Linked DNA regions of Homo sapiens. The protein of the gene in region 1 purifies or fractionates together with the protein of each later gene. This does not show direct contact. Each region holds a gene or a part of one and is shown in the gene's direction. Other genes may lie near its edges.

Region 1 (7,024 bases):
AAGGACTCACAGGTTGGCCCCCACAACAAACAATGATCTGGCCCAAAGTGTCAATAGTGTCAAAATTGAGAACCCTTGGTCTAAATCAACACAGAAGGGGAAAACAGGTCTCCTGCAATCCTGCTACCTCAACAAATTAAACACTTCACTTTTCTATGTTCCTCCCAGCCTCTGCCCCATGGTGTAAACTTCATTTTCCCAAGCTCTTCTAACCATGGCAGGAATATAGTTTAAATTCCACATTTCTTCACTTATTATTGTATCCTGGGCTGTTGTGCCTCTGGCCTCATTATCTTCTCACTTACCACTTTTAGTGGATGTAATACAATACTCCAGGCAGGTTGATACCCCATATTTCACCTGACCAGTCCGGGTTTCTCAGTGGGTGTTTTTTGGGGGGGACTTGCCAAATGGGCTGCATGGGGGTGGGGGTGACTTGAGCAGCCGTGCTGTGGGCAGCCACCTCCTCTTCCTGCAGCCCAGGCATCAGCATCGTGGTCCTCATCATCAAAAGCCCTTTATGAAGCACCTTGGTGAATATATCCTGGCACCGGGGGCATCTTCTGCAGAGTTCTTCCCACCAGCCCCTGACATGCAGGGCTTGCCAGCTCAGACAGACAGCATCTGTGTCAGCTCACCAAAAAGGCGTCCAAAAACTGGGCTGTAGGCCCCAGGCAGAGGGGTGAGAAAACGGATTCTTAGGCAAGATTCATGCCAAGAGTAAGTACGCCGGGGAATGCAAAGACAGGCTGGATTCCCAAAGGGAGCCTGGCCCTTGAATTCCCTCCCCCAGCTAGCTGGAGGCTTCTTGGAGGACAAGGGATTTTAGAAGCTACTGCGAGGGAAGGAGAGAGTGAGGGGAACAGCTTAACAGGTTAAGGACTTGGGGTCAAGCGTTCCAGGCACACAGAGCACGGCCTGGAAGATGTTTCTCCAGAGACCTTCGTGCCACCCTCTGGTCTCACCTCAGTGTCCTTTTCCTTTGCCTCTGCAGGTGTTCCATGAGCAAGGCATCCTGTTCGGCTACCGCCATCCACAGAGTTCTGCCACTGCCTGCATCCTCAGCCTTTTCCAAATGACCAATGAGACTCTCAACATTTGGACTCACTTGCTGCCCTTCTGGTACCTTCTGGCCCCCTCGACCGGCCTGTCTCCTTCAGGAGCCCTGGAGACCAGGGTGTCTTAAAACATGGCTAGTGTTGAGAGGGCTGAGATTCTGTGCTGGGGTTTGGGGATCCCCCGTGGGTACACGCGGGTGAAGGGAGTGTGTGACAGAGGGAAGAGACATTGGGTGTGCCACTGGGATGACCTTTAAGGCATGGACTGGGGTAAGATTTGAGGGGAAATCCCAAAAGTGCCTCAGTCCTTCCTGCTCCCTGCTCCGGTGCCTGATATGATAGCATTTACCTTCATCTCCGGTCTTGGAGACTTTCCAGGTCTTCCAGGAGCCCTGGTTAAAATGTCACTAGTTTGAGCAAGTCAACCTCTCTGAGCCTCTCATTTTCCTACCTGCAAAGCAGGAGTGATGGTCCGCACCTCCCCAAGGGTTGCTGTGAGGGTTTGGGGAGAAAACATTGGTAGAGGCATCTGCCACAGAGTTGTGGGTGTTCCGTAATCATTCTGGGAACCACGACAACTGGGAGGCACTTGGTCAGGCAGCCTGTAGATGGAGCCAGCTAAGAGCAAAGCTCTGGGAAGCCTGTATGCAGAAATGGAAGTGGCCAGGGAAGCGAAGAGGGGCCTTGCTGAGAAAGGTGGGGGATGAAGGCCAATGTCACACACTGCACACCTTTGCTTAAGGAATGGAGGATGGAGACAGGGTCAAAGCACCAAATCACAGTGGATCTGAGCTGGAAGAACTCAGAGGCCATTCAAGCCACTGTCCCACTCAGACCACCACTGGTCGATGTAGACACAGCCGAGAGACGGGGTGGCGTCCTTACGTCATGCAGGGGCGCCGTGGCACAGGCTGGTCACTGGACTCCCTCCAGTCATGTTGAGAAGAGATGAGGAGTGTGCCATGAGTGGAGATGGGCCCAGGCTCCCCGCACAGGGGCAGCCAGCCTGAGTAGAAGTCAGATGACAGACCCGGGGCCAAAATGCAGGGGCAGGCTGTTTGGTTCCAGCAGCCAGCTCAGTGGAGAGGGGAGAGAGCTCAGTCTGGTGTGGACTAGGGTGATCTGTAAAGGAGTGTGGCAGCCCTGGGCCTGCGGACTGGGCAGGGGTGGCAGCACAGCCCTGCTCCAGGGGCCATTTGTCATTTTTAAAAGTATACATGCTTACAAATTATAACCCTTCAGAAGGGAATAGAGTCAGGCTCTGCCACTGGCCCCAGTTCTCCTCCCTGGAGTGGCCAGGGGGACCTGCTTCCTATGCGTCCTCCTGGAGCTTTTCTGGGGGACCCAGGAGCATCTGTGCTGTGAGCATCCACAGCATCTGCCTCTTTCCCTGCTGCCTTCCTCTTACTTCCCTCCCTTGGAGATCTCACTCTGTCAGCATCTGCAATCTGCATGTCTCCTGGACTTTGGAACATCTGCTTGGTGTTCCATTTTCTGGATGAATCATGGTTGATTTAGGCTGTTTTGAGATTTGAGCTGCTAAAAGGGTACCAGCCTGTCCATCCCTGCTTGTGGGTCTTGCACTCCATGCATGGATCCCTGTAGGGTGATTTTTTGCTATGTTACAGCTGAGCCAAGCTGGGTGAGCCGCACCCCCATCACCTCCAGCACTGCCTATGCACTTCTACACGGTGCCAGGCTCTCAGAGATGATCCTGACTGAGCAACAGAGAGTAGCAGGAAGGACTTGGGGAGGTCTGGATCAAGATGCCCTAAGGAAATGGGACCACTGAAAAATTGAAATAACTGAAGGATACATTTTGAGAAACAGCAAATAGCTTAAGCTTTACTTCCCGCTGGGACAAAATTAAAAAGTCCACAAGTGTAGCTGGAAGGATTTAGCAATGTTCCTTCAGCTCCTGCATATGAAAAGCTTTGTAGAGTCTCCTCCCTTGGAGGAGTTAGTGAGAAAGGGAGCCAGCTCTCTAGGAGTGATTTGTGGAAGCGAGGTGCTCTGCAGGCGGGACCTCATGCGTGGATTGTAGGCCAGGCAGACCTGGTGAAGAATTTTGAAGTGTCTCTGCATAGAGATCTAGGCTCTGCTAAGAGTCAGCTGTGGGACTAGCTATTCCGAAAAGTGATTGTACTCTTAGTGGAGGAACAGTGTGGAGGAGGAGGGAGAAAATAGTTCTCTTGGCCTCGGCTTGCAAGGCTCCACCTGGGGCATTGCTTCTATTTGAGGAGCCTTCCTACAAGAGGGACATAGACAAACTACATGGAGGAAGGACAAACCACGGGGATGGTGGTAACGCCACATTTAGATCCTGCGAGGAATGGCTGAAGGAACCGGGAGTATTTAATGTGAAGTTCAAGGAGGTGGGAGGGGGTTAGAAAGACTGCCTTGAAATATTTGACAGGCGGCCGGGCGCAGTGGCTTATGCCTATAATCCCAGTACTCTGGGAGGCTGAGGCAGGCAGACCACAAGGTCAGGAGATCGAGACCATCCTGGCCAACATGGTGAAACGCTGTCTCTACTAAAAATACAAAAGTTAGCCAGGCGTGGTGGAGGGTGCCTGTAGTCCCAGCTACTTGGGAGGCTGAGACAGGAGAATCACTTGAACCCAGGAGGCAGAGGTTGCAGAGAGCCGAGATCGTGCCACTGCACTCCAGCCTGGTGACAGAGCAAGACTCTGTCTCAAAAAAAAAAAAAAGCATATATATATATATATATATATATATATATATATATATATATATATGTATGTATGTATATATGTATGTATATGTGTATATATATATGTGTGTATATATATGTGTATATATATGTGACCATATATATATATATATATATGACCATATATATATATATATATATATATATATATATATATATATATGCATATGTTAAGCTTGTTTTCTATGATCCTGGTGGAGGGAACTAAGGCCAATCAAATGGAGATAGATTCCAGGAGGACAGATTTGAGCCAATGAAGGAGAACTTTCCAGCCCTTGGAGCTGCTTTGGGAGGTAATGAGCCCCCCATCCCTGGAAGCATGCAAGCTGAGGCTGGAGAATCACTAGGGGATTGGACTAGATATACATAAAGCCTCTCTTCTTACTTCACCTGCCCATTCCCAACGTACTGCCTCCCAATTAAAAAAGGACCCCCCACCTTCCTAGCACATGGTATTTCCCCAAAGTGAGAACACGAAGGAATTAGTCACCGCGGGGGAATGGAGACAGTAGATAGGCGAGGATCTAAGAGGGGCTTCCATCATGGAGGGTGAGCAGGTCCTCCATGTTCATCATGGAGGGTGAGCGGCCCTGCGTGCTCATGGTGGAGGGTGAGCGGGCCCTCCGTGCTCATGGTGGAGGGTGAGCGGGCCCTCCGTGCTCATGGTGGAGGGTGAGTGGGCCTTTGTGTACATGGTGGAGGGTGACTGGCCCTCTGTGTTCATCGTGGAGGGTGAGTGGGCCCTCCGTGCTCATGGTGGAGGGTGAGCGGGCCCTCTGTGCTCATGGTGGAGGGTGAGTGGGCCTTTGTGTTCATGGTGGAGGGTGACTGGCCCTCTGTGTTCATCGTGGAGGGTGAGCGGGCCCTCTGTATTCATGGTGGAGGGTTAGTGGGCCTCTGTGCTCATGGTGGAGGGTGAGTGGGCCTTTGTGTTCATGGTGGAGGGTGAGTGGCCCTCTGTGTTCATCGTGGAGGGTGAGCGGGCCCTCTGTATTCATGGTGGAGGGTGAGTGGGCCTCTGTGCTCATGGTGGAGGGTGAGTGGGCCTCTGTGCTCATGGTGGAGGGTGAGTGGGCCTCTGTGCTCATGGTGGAGGGTGAGTGGGCCTTTGTGTTCATGGTGGAGGGTGAGTGGGCCTTTGTGTTCATGGTGGAGGGTGAGTGGGCCTTTGTGTTCATGGTGGAGGGTGAGTGGGCCTTTGTGTTCATGGTGGAGGGTGAGTGGGCCTTTGTGTTCATGGTGGAGGGTGAGTGGGCCTTTGTGTTCATGGTGGAGGGTGAGTGGCCCTCTGTGTTCATCGTGGAGGGTGAGCGGGCCCTCTGTATTCATGGTGGAGGGTGAGTGGGCCTCTGTGCTCATGGTGGAGGGTGAGTGGGCCTCTGTGCTCATGGTGGAGGGTAAACGGGGCCTCTGTGCTCATGGTGGAGGGTGAGTGGGCCTCTGTGCTCATGGTGGAGGGTGAGTGGGCCTCTGTGCTCATGGTGGAGGGTGAGCGGGGCCTCTGTTTTCACGGTGGAGGGTGAGCGGGGGCCCTCCGTGTTCATGGTGGAGGGTGTGTGGGCCTCTGTGTTCGTGGTGGAGGGTGAGTGGGCCTCTGTGTTCGTGGTGGAGGGTGAGTGGGCCCTCCGTGGGTGAGTGGGCCCTCCGTGTTCATCGCGGAGGGTGAGTGGGCCCTCCGTGTTCATGGTGGAGGGTGAGCGGGTCCTCCGTGTTCATGGTGGAGGGTGAGCGGGCCCTCCGTGTTCATGGTGGAGGGTGAGCGGGCCCTCCGTGTTCATGGTGGAGGGTGAGTGGGCCCTCCGTGTTCATGGTGGAGGGTGAGTGGGCCCTCCGTGTTCATGGTGGAGGGTGAGTGGGCCCTCCGTGTTCATCATGGAGGGTGAGCGGGCCCTCCGTGTTCATGGTGGAAGGTGAGCGGGTCCTCTGTGTTCATGGTGGAGGGTGAGCGGGCCCTCTGTGTTCATGGTGGAGGGTGAGTGAGCCCTCTGTGTTCCAGGTTCTTTGCATGGAGGTTTGTGACTGCACTGTATATGACAGACATCAAGAATGACAGCTACTCCTGGCCCATGCTTGTGTACATGTGCACCAGCTGCGTGTACCCACTTGTGTCCAGCTGTGCGCACACCTTCAGCTCTATGTCCAAGAATGCCCGGCACATTTGCTACTTCCTGGACTATGGTGCCGTCAACCTCTTCAGCCTGGGTATGTGAGGCCTTGTTCTTGCTTTCCTTCCCCTGCAACCGGGCTGTTTGCCCCTTCTCCTGTGAGCTAGGGTCACCAGAAGGCTTTGATGAGTTTGCAGAAGAATCCAGGGATTATGCCAGTGCCCCTGTCCAGGTTCCCAATGGGTGTTTTATAAGAAACTGTCCATAAGCATGCTGCTAAATATTTAGCCACTGGCTCTGTGGGGACAACAGCCCCGATCTGCAGTGTTGCCAGTTTCTGTGGTGTAAATCTTCCCATCATGTCCAGCTTCAACCTACTAACATGACATCACAGAACACAAGGGTGGGAAGAGATATGCGTAGCACACTATTACAGAAATTCCACCATGCAGATACAGTAGATGTAGTCATTGAGTACTCAGTACTTTTGTTAATATGATTTATTTAATTGCAAGTTTCTGTGATTTAATTTTTAATGATGGCTGTGTTCAGCACTCAGCTCTCTCACAGGCCAGAATGAACTGACTCCAGTACATCAGTGCTGGTCTCTGTCATGCCAGGCAAGAAGAGGAGGGTGAGGTCATGAGCCTCGTATATCCAGAGGCTTAGCACAATCAGAGAGATGCTCAGAGTGTGCGGGAATAGATCAGCAACCTAAGCTGGTGAAATTCGGTGCTGACCGCCCCCTCTTCCTTGTCTTTTTCTTTGACTATGATGCTCCCTCCTCTGGCCTCTTCTCTCCTCCCCTTGTGGGCATGCATCTATCCCTAAGGATATGAGTTCTAGATTCTTCCTCCAGGTCCCATTCTAGGTGAGAAAACCAATTATTGTCTTCCTTGCCCAAGAGGTTGTCCATGAGGAGCCTACCTCCATCCTCTTTCTTCATATACACACGTTCACACTCACACAAACACACACTCATGCACTGACACACACTGACACACACACATACAATGCACTCACACATGCACATACACACACTCACCACATATACACAATACACTTACATGCACACACACACACCACATGCCACATGTACTCACACATTGACACACACACAATACACT
Region 2 (7,100 bases), on another chromosome or scaffold:
TAATATAATTCAGCATTTTCCCATGTCTTAAAGTGGTTAAATATTTAAGTTTTCTACAAAATCTAAAATATATATATCTTTGAGACAGGTTCTCGCTTTGTCACCCAGACTGGAGTGCAGTGAAGCGATCATGCCTCACTGCAGCCTCCAAATCCTAGGCTCAAGCAATCCTGCTGCCTCAGCCTCCAGAGTAGTTGGGACTATAGGCCCATGCCACCATGCCCAGCTAATTTTTGTACTCTTTGTGAAGACGGGGTTTCACCATGTTGCCCAGACTGGTCTCGAACTCCTGGGTTCAAGTGATCTGCCCACTTCAGACTCCTAAAGAGCTGAGATTACAGGTATGAGCCACTGCACCCAGCCATAAAATACTTTTTCTTTAGTTTAGTAAATGTTTTTAGAATTAGGTTAATGCTCTTCATTAAAATAGATGACCAGTGAAGGTTATAGGTTGTCTAAACATAATATCGAAAAGAAAAGGAAATAAGCACTGAGAAATCCATGTAGTTCTTATAAATACTCATGGCCCACTCTTGTCATTGTAAACACATGTAAAGGACAAAAGTGGTTTCCACGGACTACCTGATGTATGTGCATTCATTGGCTCACCGGATCCCCACACTGAGTTCAGCCATAGGGAAATACACATAAACATTTTAAATCTATAAAGTGCATAAGCAATATTAAGACTGTAAATATGTTTTGCTTATAGTCTCATTCTCTATTACATCAGACTCTATATTTGCTATGCATCTTTCTACCACGAGGAATCTGGCCTTGGTACTCAGACAGACCTGAATTTGAATACTAACTAGTTTTACTACTTATGGCCTGAGTCCTCTTTCCCACCCTCCACCTTTTTAAAATGGAGTTGATCAGCTGGGCATGGTGGCTCACACCTGTAATCCTAGCACTTTGAGAGGCCGAGGCAGGAGGATCACTGGAGACCAGGAGTTGGAGATCAGCCTGACCAACATAGTGAGAGCCTGTCTCTACAAAAAAAAAAAAAAAAAAAAAAAAAAAATTTGTTGTTGAGATGGAGTCTCACCCTGTCACCCAGGCTGGAGTACAGTGGCGTGATCTTGGCTCACTGCAACCTCCACCTCCCAGGTTCTGGGAGACAGAACAACAGAGCGAGACTCTGTCTCAAAAAAAAAAAAAAAAAAAAAAAAAGGTTATATGATGAACAGAAAAGATATTGGTAAGTGAAAAAAGCAGGTTACAAAACAGCATTCTTTCATTCTATTTTTGTTAATAAATTCTATACAAGTATTGGCTGGGTGTGGTGGCTCGCACCTGTGTAATCCCAACTACTTTGGAAGGCCAAGGCGGGTGGATTGCTTGCATTTAGGAGTTTGGGACCAGCCTGGGCAACACAGTGAGACCCCATCTCTACAAAAAATAAAAAAAATAGCCAGGTGTGGTGGTGTGCGCCTATACTCTCAGCTATTCAGGGGACTGAGGTGGGAGGATTACTTAAGCCAGGGAGGCAGAGGTTGCAGTGAGCCAAGTTTGCGCCACTGCACTCCAGCCGGGGTGACAGAGCAAGACCCTGTCTCGAAAAAAATTAATTAAAAAAATTCTTTATATGTATTTAATGTGTATTTCTGCATGGTGGGAAAATGAGAGATTTAAATTCCCTCTTAAATTTTAAAATGAAATGTGCTCGTCTCTCTACAATGATCATGTGCTACTTGTGTCATAAAAAGTTATGAAAAATAAAAATGCAGCAGAAGTGCATCTTGGCGGTTGTTTGGTTTCATAGGGAGTGAGTTATACTTGGCACACTATGGTTTGCTCTTACCACGTGTTTCCTCTCGTGATCTGTAGAGAAGTCCTCTGAGGCAAGAAGAGGCAGAAGCTCCTAAAGGGCTGTGCCTTCACCTGTCGCCGGCACGCAGCTCCACAAAGGGGCGCTCAGATGGCTATTGCTCATGCTTGGGCCACAGGACCTCGTGCAGTCTCCTCATGACATCCCGAGAAGGTGGGAGGCAGGGATGGTGCTGGGGCTAGTTTTCCTTTGGCAGAAGGGGAAACCAAGTCACAGAGAACCTGCCTTTTTCCTTGCACTGCCCCTCTGTGTGGTCCTAGGGACAGGATTTTATTATTTATTTATTTATTTATTTTTCGAGGCACAATCTCACTCTGTCACTCAGGCTGGAGTGCAGTGGTGCAATCTTGGCTCACTGCAACCTCCACCTCCCGGGTTCAAGCGATTCTTGTGCCTCAGCCTCCCAAGTAGCTGGGATTACAGGCGCCCACCACCACACCCAGCTAATTTTTATATTTTTAGTAGAGATGGGGTTTCGCCATGTTAGCTAGGCTGGTCTCGAACTCCTGATCTCAGGTGATCTGCCTGCCTCAGTCTCCCAAAGTGTTCGGATTCTTGTGAGCCACTGCGCCCGGCCTGGGACAGAATTGTAGTCCAGATGTCATGTGCTGGCCATCACCAGGAGGTTACGTTTTGCATCTCTTCTGAGCTCACCAGCTCGGCGTGGGTATGTCGGAGCAGGACGTAGTCATGCTTGGCCAAGGGGGTGCTTAGTCCTGCCTCAGTGCCACGCACCACCCCACATTCGGCAGTTCAGGACCTGGCCAGGCTCACTGAGGTTCTCACAGCCGTTTCAGGCAGGGTTGGCTTCTGCTTGTCTTTGCATTCTGTGAACTCTCACTTTCTGCTGCTGTTACCTCCTCTGACTTTTGCACTGAGGCCTGCCGCCTCAACTCCCTCTTGGTGAGTGTTTCTTAGGCTCAGCTCACACCTTCTCCTGCTCACCAAGACCTCACCCTGGGCCTGCCTGGTGTCAGCTGCCCCCGTGCCAATCCTCCCCACCCCAGCCGCACTCCTGCTTCCACAGCCTCCTCTGGCCTGCACCCTGCACGTGCCCTGGAGCCGCCCATTGTTCTTTCTCTGAATGAGTATCTGTGCCCTACGATTTAGTTGTGTGCTCCTCATTCTCTAATTGCATCCTCTAAATGGCCATCTTCTCTCCCGTAGAGGACTGTGGGCTCCTTGCAGGAAGATGCTGTCGATATGATGGGAACAAGAACAGTTCTGACATGTGACTGGCACTTCTGATGTGCCAGGCCCAGGGCTGGGCGATTTACCTAATTATTTCATTCCATGATGACAATAAACCTGTGTGATCCCACTTGACAGATGAAGAGAGGTTGAGTGGCTTGTCCAAGGTCCCCCAGCTGGGTAGCAGTAGAGCAGGGATTCTCAGCACATCCATCTGACTGTGAGCCTGTGCTTTTCACCACTGCGCAACCCTCTGTCCCTGCTTGCTGCTGGACTCACATTTCCTTGGATGTTCTTCCCGATGGCCTCCACGGAGTCTGCTTCTTGATGGCAGAACAGCCTCCTGCTGCCGTGAGAGCAGAATTACATTCTCTCCCCAAGATGCCCAGGGCCGGCTTCCTTTGTGCTCAGAGAGTGGGGTGGGCTGAGGACACTCAGAGCTTGGTGTGTTCTCCCACCCCCATTTTCTTACCCCTGTGCACCCTGCACTGTGCCACAGCCTCTCTCCCAGCCCCTTTTCCTGTGGACCCCCAAGCTGCCAGAGGGTTCTTGCCAGACCCACAGGGATCCCTGAGCTGCAGGTCTGCCATCTCTCTCTAGAGTTGGTAAGAAAATGGAACCACAGTTCACCAAAAGGCCCCAAGGAGAGGCTCCGGACTGAAGACAGCCACCCCAGCTTCACACCCCCCATCTGGACCTTTCCCCTCTACAGCCTCCCTCCCCTTCCCCCAATCAGAGTCTTTGCTTTGGGGCCCAAGCCCTTGGCTAAGCTCCACCCCTCTCCCAGCATCCTAAAGTTTGGGGGCTGCATTCAAGTCAGAGATTTCCAAGTAGGGGGTGTGTTGGAGGGACTTCTGAGGGCAGCTTGTCCTGGAAGAATGGGGGAAAGGCGGCGTGTGTTGCTGTCCCTGAGGACATCTGTGTAGCTCCCTGGGAGACCCTCTGCCCTTTCCCCCTCCCACCAGCCCGGCGAGCAGGGACCAAGCCTGCTTATTATCACCTGACGCTGCGCAGCCGCTGATCCCATTGGTGGAGGCAGATTCGGTCTGGCTCTCTCGTTCTTTCTCCCTTCTCTGCCTCTCTCTCCTCCACGCTGCTTTGATTTCGCTCTTGCCTCTCTTCTTGCGCTGCTCAGCTGGGAACATCGTCTCACCAGGGGCAGCAGCGACGCGCTGCACAGCCAGACAGGAGCTGGCTGCGGGGCATGGAAGCAGCCTCCTTGGCAGCCGGGAGAGGAGCAAGCGCACGCCACTGCCCGTGACCCAGGCGTCCGGCTGCTGTCCCCTGCCGGGGAGCTCATCCACGCAGAGGTCTCTCCCTGTCCTCCCTGCGAGCTTTTCCTCTGCAGAGCCCAGTGGAGCCAGGTGAGTACCCTTCCTCCCTGGAACCTGCTGCTGTTGATCCTGAGTAGCCGGGATCTGGGGGCTCTAGGGTCCTGCCACCACCCAGGGTGCCCACCTGGACTGCCAGGCCTGACGACCTTGTCCCCTCTCCCCCCCCCCGGCCAGGCCTTTGGCAAAGTGGTTAATGGCTGAATCCAGTCTCTGGGGCACCACAGTTAGTCACCCCGTGACCGTTCTGCTGCAGTCAGCGATGCCAACAGGGACAGCAGGGTGGGGGAAGCATTCCCTGTGGCAGGGTGGCTGTTTGAATGGGCATGGGGAAGGGGCACCGGTGTGCGCGGCGTGTGTGTGTGCGCGCTCGCGAGTTGGCTGGAGGCTTGCTGGCGCAGATAGGTCCGTCTGTCCGCAGTCATGCTCATGTGTGGGTTTTGAATGGTGTGAGGCATGTCTAGAAACATATCTTTCTGGCACACGTGAGGTACATGTGTGTGGGGGACTTATTTGAGTAGCCTGTGGGTGTGCGTGGGTGGGGACACTATGAGGCAGTATATTTAGGGGTAACCATGTCCCTTTTCATGTGTGTGGGAGTGTATGCAGACAGGGGCTTTCTATATGGGGAGGTGAGACCCAGAGCAGGATGGAGTGGGTAAAGAGAAGAAGGGGCAGAAACCATTGTCTGTGGGCAGAGCCACGTAGGTGCACAAACCTGTTGGCATGAAGGCTCAGGGCTGGCAGAGTGTGGCCAGAGGCAAACACATTTTCAAAGTCTGTCTTTGAGCCTGGAGATGATTCGAGAGAGAATACCAGACTTCGGGCGGGGGCTGCTGTGTGTATGAACACACATGTGTGTGCCGGCAGGCGTGTGGGTTGCGTGCCTTCTTGTGGAGGTGGCACACATGCATGTTGGTGCCTGTGGCATCCTCTTTTCCCCACATATGGCTTGTGAGGCGGTGTGCGTGGACGTGTGTGTGCGTGAGCCTGTGGACATGAACATGTCTGGGTGTGCATGGAGGTGACAGATTGAAGAGGGAAAACTGTGGGGCATTCTTAGAATGTGGAAGGTGGCAGCAGGCACCTGAATGTGGAGATGGGTGTGTGGGAGTGAGGACATCTGCGGAGGTGTGGGACGCGGGTGGGTGGGCACTCTTGGCGCATGTGTGTATGCGCGTGCGTGCCTGCCTGTGTGTGGGTGTGTACATGCCTGTCTTGGGGTGGATCCACACAGGAGTGTGGGTGTTTCTCGGGTGTTGCCTCAACCTGTCCCTCACACCCTGCCCTTCCCCAGTCTTCTGGGTGTAGAGAACTTGGGTTCACACCCACCCCTCTGTCCACCCCAGCTCACTCACTGCCACCCTCCCAAGCTAGCGGGGGGATGTCATCTCAGCTTTCCCAGAACCGTAGGGAGGGAGGGACAAGCAGACACCCAGGTCCTGGAGACCCCTACCGCCAAACACAGCTGCCCCTATTTCTAGGAGGACTCCAAGGAGAGGCAGGAATAGGTGCCTACTCATGGGACGAGTGTGGGCTGCCTCCGAGCGTGTGGGTGGGTGCCGCTCAGGGCCTCTTGGGTAGGAGTGTGTCTGTGTTCGTGTGTGTGTGTGCGTGTGTGTGTGTGAGGGGCACATGTGTGTCTCCCTGGGAGCTTCTCACCAGGTTCCCAAGAGATGGTAACTCCCCACTGCTCCACACCTGTCCCCATGAATTACAAACTGGTTTATTATGGTAGGGTTGTTTCCAGACACTCAATCCCATCTGCCTGATTTTGGGGTGGGCCTGGTAGCACCGCCATGCTTATTTACCATAGGATTCCCCATGCACAAAGCCACCGGCATTTGGCTGTGGGGTGGGAGGCTAAGATGAAACAGGACTTGAGTGACACCTGGAGCAGGTAAGGGCCATCACCTTTAGCCTTCACCCTGTACTTGCCATCCAGGCAACTCACAGGTTAATACAGAGGTGCCAGGCTCTGGAGCAAGCTTAATTGACAGGAAGGTGTGGGCTGGATCCTCTGGAAGCTATAAATAAAAGTACCTGCTTTTGCAGGCACAAGATGCCCTCACCACTAGCTCCTGGGCAAGGGGAGGAGAAAAAGAGGGGAGAAAGAAGAGAAGGAGGTGACATTTAGAAAAATGAGGGGTGCCAGGAACTGGGCTGGAGGAAGGGATTGGAAAGCAGGAGACCAAATGCCCCTGGAGAATGCCCCACCCACGTCTGCTGTCCCCTCCCAGACGCTGTCACTCCCCTTCCCTTTGCTCTTCCCCATCCCGGAGCTAGGCCAGCCAGGCCAGAGTCATGGCCAGAGTCAGCTCTTCCCAGCTAAAGCACACATGAGAGTGACCGTGATGAGGTCCTCTCATACCTGGACGAGCAGCAGACATAAGGGGAGAACCAAAGGAGTAAGACAGGGAGGGGAGAGAAAATGCAGTTGCTTGAAAGGAAACGATGGAAGGAGGAAAAATGCCAGGTGGAAACACCATGGGCACCCATGCATGCACACACGCCACACATGTGCCCCTCCACCCCCACACATGAGGGGACACTATCTTAGCTTAGTGATCAAGAGCTTGGGTGCCGGAGTTCAAATCATTTGCTCTCTGCGTGGCCTTGGGCATGTTAGTACCTCCCCAACCTCAGTCGCCTCATCTGTAAAATGGAGATAATGATAGTGTGTGCCTACTTCCAAGGTTGCATGAGACGTCTGTGAAATTATGAGCACATGGCCGGCCCCTAATAGA

The links.
Region 2: the proteins of PAQR5 (region 1) and PHYHIP purify together in Homo sapiens (affinity purification with mass spectrometry; 3 studies listed by BioGRID and IntAct, with this or other methods). This does not show direct contact.

The regions. Positions count from the first base shown.
Region 1 is NC_000015.10:69,378,889-69,385,912, forward strand, and holds part of PAQR5 (membrane progestin receptor gamma), read left to right. Parts: intron 1-567; exon of another isoform or gene 568-711; coding exon of another isoform or gene 712-720; intron 721-994; coding exon 995-1,122; intron 1,123-5,788; coding exon 5,789-5,994; intron 5,995-7,024. UniProt on the Homo sapiens protein: Plasma membrane progesterone (P4) receptor coupled to G proteins. Seems to act through a G(i) mediated pathway. May be involved in oocyte maturation.
Region 2 is NC_000008.11:22,229,082-22,236,181, reverse strand, and holds the start of PHYHIP (phytanoyl-CoA hydroxylase-interacting protein), read left to right. Parts: upstream 1-4,082; 5' UTR 4,083-4,386; intron 4,387-7,100. UniProt on the Homo sapiens protein: Its interaction with PHYH suggests a role in the development of the central system.